Linked DNA regions of Homo sapiens. The protein of the gene in region 1 purifies or fractionates together with the protein of each later gene. This does not show direct contact. Each region holds a gene or a part of one and is shown on either strand. Other genes may lie near its edges.

The links.
Region 2: the proteins of SGK1 (region 1) and ARL5B purify together in Homo sapiens (affinity purification with mass spectrometry; 2 studies listed by BioGRID and IntAct, with this or other methods). This does not show direct contact.

The regions. Positions count from the first base shown.
Region 1 is NC_000006.12:134,308,049-134,315,332, reverse strand, and holds part of SGK1 (serine/threonine-protein kinase Sgk1), read left to right. Parts: intron 1-7,284. UniProt on the Homo sapiens protein: Serine/threonine-protein kinase which is involved in the regulation of a wide variety of ion channels, membrane transporters, cellular enzymes, transcription factors, neuronal excitability, cell growth, proliferation, survival, migration and apoptosis.
Region 2 is NC_000010.11:18,676,243-18,682,235, forward strand, and holds the end of ARL5B (ADP-ribosylation factor-like protein 5B), read left to right. Parts: 3' UTR 1-5,397; downstream 5,398-5,993.

The DNA.
Region 1 (7,284 bases):
ACAGGATCAGACATCTCTCCTGCCCCTGCGCTCTCCTTACTCCTCAAGGACAGTTAACTAAGTAGAAGGTGACCTTGTATCAAGTCATTGAATGCCCCAGGGATAAATTCTTTGATTTTTGTCTACTTTGGTTTATTCCACAAATTCTGTATTCTAAATGTTTATTTCTGCTTGTACATGACTTTGCTTTTTTTGTTTGTTTGTTTTTAGTTAAACAATATGTAAATACATCTATAAAACATTAAAACAATAATAAGGTATATCCCACCTCCTCTCCAATCTTTCTCCCTTTCCCAGATGTAGTAACTGTTACCATACTGATGTTTATACTTTCCAAACTTTTACTTCACATACACATTCATATACTACAATGCCTTTGTTTGCAGTTCAGAATAATTCATTTTCTTATATTCTATTGTTGAAGTTCCACACATTTCTGCATATTTTATTTTTAACCTAGCTAGACAGTCTTACAAAGTGAACCTTTGTCCATAGCCCACATTAAACTATGAATAGATTTTGGAAAAAAAAAAAAAAAAACCATAGGGTCTATTAGGGCTAATTAAAAAGAATGATTTTTGATTGCAGGAGGCTTAAACAGTGCTTCCTATGCTTCTGAGACATTCCAGAGGGAGCATAAGAAACTGAAGGAGAATATAGGTTATCTGCCCTTGTAGCTGTCTGTCAGTCACTATTTATTAGAGCTGACTATGTTCTGGGTAGGAATGCTTTACATGTATTAGCTCATTTAATATTCACAGTAACCCTATAAGGTAAGAAACATTATTAAATGTGCAAAGTGTGACTTAGAGAGATTAAACCATTCGCCCAAGGTCACATAACTAAAAAGTAGCAGAGCTAAAATTTAAACCTTGTTCAACTCAAAGCTTGTATACGTAATCCAGACTTTTTGATTTCAGACCACTCTCCCCTTCTTTTCTTTTAGTTTCCACAACAGACTCTTCTGTCCCCCTACCCCCCTCCCCCAACCAAGTGAAATCTTTATGCCACTACCAAAAACCTATAAAAGCGGCCAAGCCTCTTCCAGCTCCTTTCTAGTCCTTAATACTGACAGTAATGAGAGGCTGCCCTGGGGAACCCAGATTCTAGGAACATAATCTGAAGAAAGACAGTCCGGATGCTAGTTCTACAAAATCCTTTGGATTTATGCTTCTCATCCTCATATTTTAAAAGCTCAACTAAAGCAGCTTAATTTCATTTAGCAGAGAATTGCTGAACTAAACTGGATAAGAGTTCTACTTTCATTCTTTAAGTGTTCATGATAAATTAGCATTAGATGTATATGGATTATATTTTACTCTTAAGAGTCTCCAAAAATTCATTTAAGATGAATGGAAAAATGTCCTTATCAGTTTTATTCTCCCAATCCAAGAGTTTTAAAAGTTGTCAGTCCAGCTAAAGGTAATCCATTTTCATGGATTTAAAGATTTGTTCTGTTTGTGGCTCAGATTCTTACATAATGATTTAGAAAACGCAAACAAATGACATTGTCTCCAACTCGATAATCCTTTTTGGAAATACACAAGGTATGTGAAAAAAACTTCCATAGCCATGATTACATTACCTTTTGTAAAATTCGAAAGGCTATCTAACGCTGCAGAATTTTGGATGTGGAATGAACCTCAGAAATTCTCCCTCTGACTTCCCTCTTTCAAAGATGAGGAAACTGAGTACCTGTGGTAAATCACCTGTCAAATTAGAATGAGGTTAAGCCAGGACTCATGTTTTGGGTTTTCACTTCCAGATCTCGTGTGCTTTCCTTTTTGCTAAGTTCTCAACATCAAACTAGTCAAGTCTTTCATGCCTCATTCATTCATTTTTCAACAAATAGAGTAGGAACAAAATAACCATGTTTTATCTTCATGAAACTAACGGCATAGTGACTACCAACTTTGACAAGACCGTTCCATTTTGACTCTGTATTTTTGTTGTTGTTATTTTTGTTTGTTTGTTTGGTTGGTTGGTTGTTTGCAGAGACAAGGTCTCACTATGTTGCCCTGGCTGGTCTCGAGTTTCTGGGCTCAAGGGAGCGTCCCAAAGTGTTGACATTTCAGGTGTGAGCCACCCACTGTGCCCAGCCTTGACTCTCTATTTTATGATTATATGCATTTGAACAATTCCTTGCATTATTCTTTAATAACAGTAGCTTTTCTAATAACTATGACTTAAATGGCATTAATATTGCTGGGCATGGTTCTAAGAGCTTTAAGTACATTACACATTTAAATCATCATACACAGGCTGGGCGCGTTGGCTCACGCCTGTAATGCCAGAACTTTGGGAGGGTTAGGCAGGCAGATCACTTAAAGTCAGGAGTTCGAGACCAACCTGGCCAACGTGGTGAAACCCTGTCTCTACTAAAAATACAAAAATGAACCAGGTGTGATGGCAGGCGCCCATAATCCCAGCTACTCAGGAGGCTGAAGCAGGAGAATCGCTTGAACCAGGGAGGCGGAGGTTGTAGTGAGCTGAGGTCTCGCCACTGCACTCCAGCTGGGATGACAGAGTGAGACTCCATCTCAAGGAAAAAAAAAAATTATCATATATAAAAATACCTGAGATAGGTACTTTTATTATTGTGATTTCATAGATGAAGAAACTGAGGTGTACAGAAGTTGAAGAACTTGCCCCAAGTCACATAGCTAGTTAGTGACAGGATCAGGGTTTGGATCCCAGCACCAGGCTCCAGAGTCTGTGTCCTTAATCTCTATACATCCCGAATGCCTGTCAACATTAAATAATCCAGGGTGAAGTTCAGAGAAGTGAAATGATATGACTTCTCTGGCCTCCTCCTTTCTCTAATAACTGCAGGAACAAAGGAAAGGTTTTTAGTCTGGTTACAATGTTTACTCTAGCAGAGCTGAGAAGTTAAATTAAGCTCCTCTGAAGTGCTTATTCTTCACAACTATTTCATAAACAGCATCCCTTTACATTTGTTTTCCTTTTACTGTTCTATTTTGCCTGCTTAAAGTATCCAAATTGGAATAACAAAGGCCCTTTTCTTATGGGAAACTTTCGATGTCTTCTCAGAGGGATAACATTATTGAGCAGCACCGTTCAAAGCACTTTACTCAGGTAACTCTCACAATCCTTCATTATGCCCATTTTATAGCCAAGGAAACTGAGGGTCAGAGGTTAACTGATTTGTTAAAAATCGTAGACCTAGGAAGAGGTATAGCCAGAATTCAAATTCAGGTAGTTCGTTTACCAGCAGCAGTCTTTCCATTTGCGTCACTGGAGTGCACTGCGATGATGCCAATACTGTTGCAGGATTGGCTCTACTGAATTGGAAACTACTTGTGAAGACAACCCAAAGAGGTGTTTTGTTGTTGTTGTTGTTGATGTTGTTATAGCCTTAGCTATGAAGAGGTAGATTCTCCAAGTCACTACTGAGAGCGGTAGGAATGCTTTCTAACAAATCTGAAGTCTGCTTTAGATTTTTTCAAGATATGTTTGATCATGCTTCCCGGAACACGGCGGAGACTCCAGTGGCTGCTACTGTGCTTTCTTCGGAATGGCTAAAATCTAAGCTGTTTGAGTTCCTCTTGAGCCTGCGCCCACAACACAGCACATGGTCCCAGTGACACTGCATTGTTACATTAGTACTGCTTATTCCTCTGTAGCTCCCACAGGGCAGGAAGGTTTTTTGTTTTGTTGTTTTTTCATACAGTCTCACTCTGTCACCCAGGCTGGAGTGCAGTGGCACCATCTCATCTCACTGCAACCTCTGGCTCCTAGGTTCAAGCAATTCTCCTGCCTCAGCCTCCTGAGTAGCAGGGATTACAGGTGTGCACCACCATGCACAGCTAATTTTTTTGTATTTTTTTTTTTAGTAGAGACAGGGTTTCACCATGTTGGCCAGGCTGGTTTCCAACTCCTGACCTCAGGTGATCCACAAGCCTTGGCCTCCCAAAGTGCTGGGATTACAAGCATGAGCCACCACAACTGGCTGGAAGGTCTTTAAGGACAGAAAACCAGTTACCTTGTTCACTGTATCCCCTACTTGTCAAAACATATTTGTTGAATAAAAGAATGCATAAAATAAAAGAACAAATCCTTCTATTACTTGCCCCTAAGTCATTGCCCTCTTCTCCTTCCTCCTCCGTCTTCCTTTAAACAGGCTTTGGTGGCTCAGAAATCTAATGCATTTTATTTCTCTCTATGTTTAGATATGGATTAGATATAAATTAAGACTGAAATGTAACCTAAATCTGGCTCAAAGACAAGCTGTCACTTCCCCTTCAGAGCTGGTGGGTACTTAGGGAAGCTTGACCTCAGCTTATTTGCTGATCCAATGCCCATAACACACCTTCTCTTCTATGATACTTTTCTTGTCAGGCCAAACAAGACAGACGTAGCAGTGATTCACTAATCTCCTTTTATTTTGCATTAATATGAATTACTAACTTCAGTAATATATAGTAGGCTGGGCACAGTGGCTCACACCTTTAATCCCAGCATTTTGGGAGGCCAAGGCAGGCAGATCACCTGAGGTCAGGAGTTTGAGGCCAGCCTGGCCAACATGGTGAAATCCCGTCTCTACTAAAAATACAAAAATTAGCTGGGAGTGGTGGTGGGCACCTGTAATCCCAGCTTCTCAGGAGGCCTAGGCAGGAGAGTCACTTGAACCTGGGAGGCGGAGGTGGCAGTGAGCCAAGATCACGCCATTGTACTCCAGGCTGGATAACACAGTGAGACAGCATCTCAAAAAACAAACAAACAAACAAAAACTATATAGTATCTGCATTATGTATCCTCCCAACTAGAATCCTAAAAATGTCTTTCAATTATTACTTATCCTCACTTTTCAGCATGGTCTTAGGAGCCACAGAGTGTGAGTAAGACGGATGCCTTTGGCACTTTGACCACTAAGTCTTAGAGAGTTTGGATGAGGGAGTTCAGCAGTCTAGGTTTGGCAGTGCTGGGGAATTAGTCTCAGTACTGCAGAATGTGGATGATGAGCCATTTTCGTTAGATAGATATTTTGCCTCCCCAGCAGCTCTCAAGAAAATCCTGAGATAGGCTCTTAGCTACAGTGCTTGGGAGGGATTTTGAATGGAAAGTGTAGCTGAGTTCCTTGAAATTCTGCACCATTTTTTAAAGGGCTGGTGCTGAAATGCGGGTGCCATATGTAACACTGGAGTAAGAGATATTCTGAGCTCACCCATATTTTATGATCTGTAAGTGCTTAACAAGGTAAAGCAAAACCAAAATGAGGGGGCAGGAGTGAGGAACGTGGGGGGTGGAGCCATCAAAATGCATGTTGGAGATTTCCGAATATGAAAGCATAAAGGCAGGAACAGTAATGGGAATTGGATCAATAGAAAAGTTTAATTAGTAATTTAGGTCAAGCTAAAGATAGTTCGCTAGAGCAAATATTGTAGAAGCATATTTTTAAAGTGTGATTTTTTTTTACATACTAGTTAATTTTTTTTAGAAATAAGTCCAAAAATAAAGGTAAATATCAACATTCCTAACATTGGCAGAAAAGACTCCTGACTTATGAGTGGGATGCTGTTTCCTGCCTGCTAAGGAAAGCTAGGATTCCTAGCTTGTCAGCTTGTTTGAGCGTGAAATCATTGGCTCCTCACCAACCTGGGGATGAAGATTTTTATCCATTCTATGGGGCTCAAGAAAGTTCAGCTCGCAGGGTAAAAAGAGTCTTCGAAGAGCTTTAACTGAAGGGATACGCAGTGTCTCTATAGAGATCCACATCCTCTGTAATGGGAAAGCAGGTGGTTCTGGACCTCACTCTCAGTGAATCCTTCTGGCCCAGAAATGAGGACAGCAGCAGTGACCTACCCTGGTCCTTGGTCTAAGAGCAGGCTTACCCAGCAAGTGGCCAGGTTTCTCTGGCAAACTGCACAGTGATGCTGGCAAATTTATAAAAGACCATGTGGGAAAGTGGAGGAGAAGGAGGTGGAGGAGGTGAAGGAGGTGCAGGAGGAGGAGGACAGGAAAAGCAGACAGTAAGGCAAGTTCGGTGCTGCGTTGGCCTCCTCCTGCAGCTGCCATGGCATGTGGAGAAAGGATTATTATTATAGTTTGTTTACTCTCACATCTATTTCTCTGCAGCATTCTGAAATGACATTGTAAGTATTTACAACAAAGGGAAATGAAAATCAAAGATGTAACTAGAGCAGTAGAGGAATCTTCTATTTGGTAGTTCGAGGTGCCAAAATATTACTCTAATTGCTTTCTAGAGCCTGCTGTGACGTTTTTCGGAGAAGAATTCACTTAGCTACTTCTGTAACATTAGGGTAACCTTGGCCTCTTTTTCCCTCCTAGGTCAGGGCATTCACCCAAAACGCCATTTGCTTCGGGAAATGACTGGTCATGTGGTTCTTCCACTTTCTCTCTCCTGTCTCTCTCTCTTTCTCTCTCTCTGTTGTCTCTGGAGGATAAGCTCACAGCAAGGCAAAAGAGAAAAGCATGAAGTGAAATATTCCTAGGCTTGCCGGGCACGGTAGCAAACGCCTGTAATCCTAGCACTTTGGAAGGCTGAGGCGGGTGGATCACCTGAGGTCAGGAGTTTGAGACCAGCCTGGCCAACACGGTGAAATCTTGTCTCTACTAAAAATACAAAAATTAGCAGGGTGTGGTGGCGTGCACCTGTAATCCCAGCTACTCAGGAGGCTGAGGCAGGAGGATCACTTGAACCCGGGGGGTGGAGGTTGCAGTGAGCTGAGAGGGCACCACTTCACGCCAGGCTGGGTGACAGAGAGAGACTCTGTCTCAAAAAAAAGAGAAGAAACATTCCTAGGATTGTGCCCATAGAAAACAAAGGATTCTCGTTCTAACCCAGTGGCTTAAGGAACATCTTGCTATCTCTGAGTTTGTTAGAGTGACATCAGCCAGTTTGAAAGACCTTGGTAGCTCAAAGATTTTAGTCTCTAGAAATAGCAAGGTGAAAAAAGAAAAGTCCCCCAAATTGTTAAAACATATTTAGACTCAAGTCCCTGTAGGACAAAAATTAAAATATGCCAGAGGGGAAAAATGAAAGTTAATAGTTTGAGAATTAAAAATAAATCGGAATATGTATTTATAATGTTTATTACTCAGAAATGTGATCTTTCCCATAGAATGATCTTTCCGAAAGCAGCTGAATTTTCTTTGAACTCTGAATCTTTCTGGGCCAGTATTTATTTAGGTTGTACTGTAAAAAAAATTACAGGAAAAAAACGATGAGTACATAGCTTCCGGTGTGGTTTAAAAGATTGGGGTAAGGCTGTGGAGGGGTAGTATAAAAATAAAGACATTAAA
Region 2 (5,993 bases), on another chromosome or scaffold:
AAAAACTACATGGCTTTCCTTGAATTTATTTGACGGTATTATGTAATAGACTTGAAACAATTGCCATCTTTGTAGTTATGCCTTGGGTTCTAAAATGTTATAGGAAACTGCTGAATTGAATCCTAGCTTTTAGAATATTAATAGGAGACTCAAAGTTAATATTCTTAACAACTTAAAATTAAAAAAAGTCATAATCTATCAAAAGTTTATTTATTGGATGGCATTAAAACATTTTTGAGGCAGTTGTCTAATATGAACAATAATCTAAACAATATATTCCTTAAATTAAGAGGAAAGACAAGTGTCGTATTTCGATCCTGTTTATTCAAATGTGTGATTTTGCTGAAATGAAAGGGATAAAATGAATACTTAGAGAATAATACTTCATTTTTGCAGTACTTTTTAATTTTGATAAAAAAGATACAAAGTTCATAATATCAAAATATGTGTTCAAAATTGGTATTTTAATTTTAATATTTTTGTAAGTTGATTTAAATTTTGCTCTTTTTTCAGGTGTGCTTGGTTTATTATATTTAGTCAAGTTAATTTAGTCGAATGTGGTAACATTTTTCTGATTTATCTTTAGTTGGAGCACACCCTTGAACTGAACAGTGGCCAAAGGAAAGCTTTCTGGGCTTTGGAAAGTAGTTGTTTAACTTTGTTTTAAGCCGTTTTCTTAGTGATTCTGTATCAAGTAGAGGATAAGTGTAGTTTAACTTAGTTTTTAATATAACCCATAATCAAGAACATGAGCGAAAAGCAGACATAAATCGATATGGATGGTTTGTGGTGTGTGTGGGATGTGGGGGAATTAAGAAAATGCCATTTACCTAAGCACAGTTTGCCTGAATTTCTGCTTGGTTGTGTTGTTTACCGTAAGTACTGAGGGTAGTTTCCCTAAGTCTGTCCTGAGAAAAAGCATACTTAGTACTCCTGTATTTGTTCTTATGAAATGACTATCTGCCTTCTTGTATCTAGTAAGATTGGCTGGCTCAATTTTCTTCTGTCAAATTATATGGTTATTTTTTATATTACCACATCAGCATTATATTAAAAGTGTTTTTAATAGTTGATTGTATTTTGCCAACTACTAGTATAGACTCAAATTTGCTATTTAATTTTTAAAATACAATTTATTTTGTAAATCCTTTAAAAAATATTTGGTTAGTTTTGGATTAGAAATGATTTATGTTAGCCATGTGTTGAAGATGAAATTGGCATCAGTGTAGACGGTGCTGATTGGGAAAAGTTCATGATTAGGAAATTCATGTAAGACTTTTTAAGAGTATTTTTTAGGTTTTCACTCAATCTTTCCTGTCACAGTAACGTGAAAACTGATTATTCTTTACTCCAAGAGAATGTTTTAACCCAAGCAAGTATCTAATACTAGAGCATTGGTTCTGACATTCATTGTAAATCAGTGAACTGTAAGATACTGTCTAAAAAATGTACATTTGTAATTAGTGCCTTTATTCATATTTTGAAATAAGTTCTTAGTTTTATATTATACCTGTTCTTTAGAAGTCATGTTAGCAGCTAATTATTTCAGTGATGAAATAATTTGTGTTTTATATCCCCCTTCACCTCCATGTATTGGTTAGCACAGTTTATAGTAAGTGAAAAGCAAGGGACCCACCTACATTACCTTCAGGAGACTGTTCTACCTTTTAATTTGAAAACAAGGAAATTAAATTTTAACAGAAATCTTTTAAGTATGTTATAACCAAAGTGTTCAATTATCCTTGCAAGTTCAAATACAGCATTTTTCTTAATTTTGAGCGTGTCATGTCCTTCATCTTTAAACCCATCATTCTTATTGAAGCCCATTTGAGAACTCTTAGAATTAATAGAACCTTTTATAAGGGAATATATGGAATATTTTTTATTGTTAATGTAACTTAATTCCTTAAAACCTGGAATATTAATATATATAATCTATTAAAAGCTGAAGATTAAATATGTAATTTTTGCTTTTAGTTTCTTGTGTTAGTATGCTTAAAGGTATCAATACTTTTATTCTATATTCATTAGAAGAAAGGTAATAAATTTAAGTTTCATTGCTGAAAAATTTTAAATGAGTGCCACCCCATAGCCATAGTCATTTTGATTAAGCATAATTTAACTTTCATTATAGCATAAAGAGAAAATAATTATTTTAGTATGGAAACAGTGATAGGCAGTGCTGTAAACAATATTCTCTGAAAAGTTGTGGGGGTCACAAAGAAAATTTTAAAGAATATAGAAGCTTTTTTAAAAAATCTTTTTAGTGTAGTTTCTTAGAACAAATTATAAACATAATCATTCTGAATAATCAATTTTTATTTAGTCCTTAACTATGTAAAACCGTATCAGTAGAAAAATGTGCTGGTGTCGTGTCTAAAGATGGATAAATTTCTTTGGAATTTATCTTTGGAGACCAACTTTATGAGGCAGACTTTTTGTCTACAGCTTTGGAACCAAAAAAACTTCACTCTAATTCAGTCCTAAAGGCTATTTTACATTTTGCCGGGGTAAAGTGACTTCAAGATACAGCATGGTGTCTTGTATCTAGTAGAATATTGTGCTAGCCATCTAAAAAAGTGGATTTGAGCCTTAATTTGGCCGTTTCTCAATTGTCTAGTTGACCTTAGACAATTAGTGTCCATGGCTTTCCTTTTGTTTTTCCCATACTGAGGAACTTAAACTACAGCTCTAAAATGTCTTTTGGTTTTAAAATTCTGAATGCTTATATACTACTATTAAAAATTAAAAATCCCTCAAATAGTAGGGCAATACAGGTAATATGAAATTAAATGTATTTTTATCCATTATTTGATTCCCACCTGTTATTTTATTTAGAATACGAATACAACCAAGTAGGGAAAAACGTATCAGTAACTGCTATTCAACTTAAATTCAGCGAATTAATAGCTGAATAGAAATAGCTAATGACAATGCAAAAGAGAAAACAAGCCATATTGCTAAGAAAAGGATAGTAAGCTGCTTAGAAAGAACCAGCCTGTGTTGGAAATAATTCTCTTCTAGATAATTTACCTTATTTTCTTGGCTTGTACTAATTGAATGGAAGTGGTTAATTTGTTCAGAGTTTATTGCCGTTTGATGCCACCCCAGTCTATAGTTCTGTGTGACTTTCCATATTGAAAGAGTAGGGTTAGTAGCCAGGTTGTCAGTCTTTTACAAATGTCTACATAAATGTCTACATAAATCTGAAAGTGGTTTATATTCAAGGTTAGTTTTTCAGTAGCGTCTCCTCCTTATTCATTCACTTTTACTGTGAAGACTGAAATCCAAAAGCCAGGTTCCCCAAAAAAGTATTTTTAAAAAATTTTAGGGGACCAAAATAAATAGAGGAAGACCAATATAAAAAAATATGTTCAACTATTCCATTTTAAATTTAAAGCAGAAAAAAAAATTGTGCCCCTCAGACCTAAAGGCAGCTTTAAATGTATATAGTTTGGTGAAACATTTGGGAAATATTAATTTGGAGGTTTAGAAGCATACGAAAAACAAATTCAAAGCACTTGAAAGTAAAGACAATATCATGAGGTCGAAAAAACTTCAAAAGGATATTAGGTAAGAGAAAATGTGAATGAAAGCAGTGAATTTCTGCCTCTCCTCGTATTTAGGGTACTTAAAATTACTAAAAAATACTGTCTTTTTACCATACAGCTAGATGGCCTGTATTATTCTTAATGTGGCCAAAGGAGTGAAGACTGATTAGGGTTTTAGAATTTGGAACTGTAGTCACATAAAGGCATCTTTTGCATTTCTTAAACCAGTAATCTACATTTTCTCCTGGAAATGGAGAAATATGAAATGTGCTGTGCATAGCTTTTGGAATAGAAAACAAAGTTTTAAAAGAATGGATATGTTTTCTTGCACAACTTGTAAAATTTTAATTAAAAAATTACCTCATTTTTCAATCCATAAGGTGCTTTGCTCAAGTTTGTGGGATGTTTGTACCATCCCATAAAAACCCCCTTCACCCAAACTGTATTTGAAATATGCAAAATTCATAACTAAGGGATAGCATTCCTTGGAGACTTTGTTTTGTTTTACTCTTGTTTACCAGCTGGGCCAACATGGTAGATATATGAGATTCACATATGGTTTCATTAAAGCACATAGGAAAGTGCTCAGTCAATATTTAATTAGTTTAATTAGATAAGGGAAAGGAGAAATCCTAAATTTGATGGATTCTTTTATACTGTGAATATATTTCCATCAGTGTTGGTAAGATATCAAATGACTATCAGTTGATCCCAGTCATCAGTGACTTATTTGCATATTTAAGCCCTATTCACAAGAGACCATAATCATTTTAATCTTATATTTTCCCTCAGGAAATTTAGGGACTCTGAAGCCCCTATTTTATTCTCTTGGAGTAAACTGTTGAGTGTAGTTACAAAAACTTTTATTTATGACTTAAAAAAAGTTTAGCTGCTATTTCAGTGAAAGTGTAAAATAAAACGGTCATGATTTTTTTCAATTACAGAATAGTTACAAATTTTACCATGTTCATCTATTCCACAGAGCATGTTAAAAACAACAACAACAAAAACCTAACAGCAATTACAACCTTGGTGTTGCGTTTATTCTAATCAGAGTGAATGATTATAATCACACTTTGCTATTTTAACATAAATTGGTGCTTTAGAGCATTAAAGAGGAAGCAGCAGGCCCTGTACTCAGTATTTATTATTTCTTGCCTCAGAATGCAAAACAACTTTAAAGTGTCTATATTCATATATATGTGCATTTCTTAAGATTTAAATACAAACTGTTGTTACTCCTTAAGCTTCAGGCTTTCTGCGAAAGCTCTAAGAATATCTTCATTACTATGCTTGGTCAACTGGAAGATGGTATTAATAAGGTCAGAATTAGGAATTGGATTGCTCTGTGGGTCCTCCGGTATTGTGCAGAGGAAAGAAAAATGTCTTTCACACCACAAACTGTGTGTCTGAACCCCAGCCAAACAAATGTGTTCCATTGGTCCAATATATAAGCATTAACAACAACAACAAAAAATTTAAAACAAGTAAATTAATGCATTCACATGATCACTTCTTGAAAATGGTTCAAAGCATGTTTTCCTGATGGTGGGATTGTTTAAATGACATGTTTTAAAGTTTTTAATACTTTATTAGTTATGAAGTGCTTCTTTTATATGTTAAGTTTAGGTTGCCAGTACTCATAATTTTTATTTCTGCAATTATGTTATAATGAGTTGTTTGCATGCCTACTTAACCCAAGTAAAACGATGCTGTTTGCTCTGGAATGTTCATCTTTTAGACAGGTTTTGGCTCATTTCCAATCATGGTGCAATATAGTGTAACATTCATTTGTTTTCATTCAACAGTTTTATTTTTGTCATAATAAATAATTACTTTTCCAATACGAAGTGAATCCAGTGTTTTCTTTTAAAGGTAAATCTGCTTTAAGTTATTTGCTTGCAAATAATAGAAACCCACCTATGCCAACAAAGAGAGGATAATTGGGGTGAGGTGGTGGAGGCTCACAGAACCCACGGAACAACTGGATTTGTAGAACAGACTGAGACTAGAGACTGGACCATTTAGGAGCAAGCAGGAAGTTACCTTTTTTCCTGCTCATCTGTTTCTGTCTTTCACCTGACTGGATTTCTCTGTTTCCTGATCCACATAACAGATAATGTCCCAAGTCCAGTAGCCTCCTAAATTTGTACAAGGGAGAAGTCAGATTATTGTTAGACTTTCAATTACAATTCCATATTCCCCAGGGAAATTGTTCATTAGCCTGCATTGGGTCATTTCCTCTCTCTGATCTAAACAACTGGCCAAGTGGAAGGTGCATTTACCAGAGAAGGGGAATCCCTGGCCTGGGAAGGTGATCCGGATTGGTGTGTACTCCATTGTGGGGTATAATTGGGATCATCTACCAAAGTTGTGTCCTTGTAAAAAATAAAATAAAATTGAGATCTAATAATGAGTGGGATAACATTTTCACTATGTTCA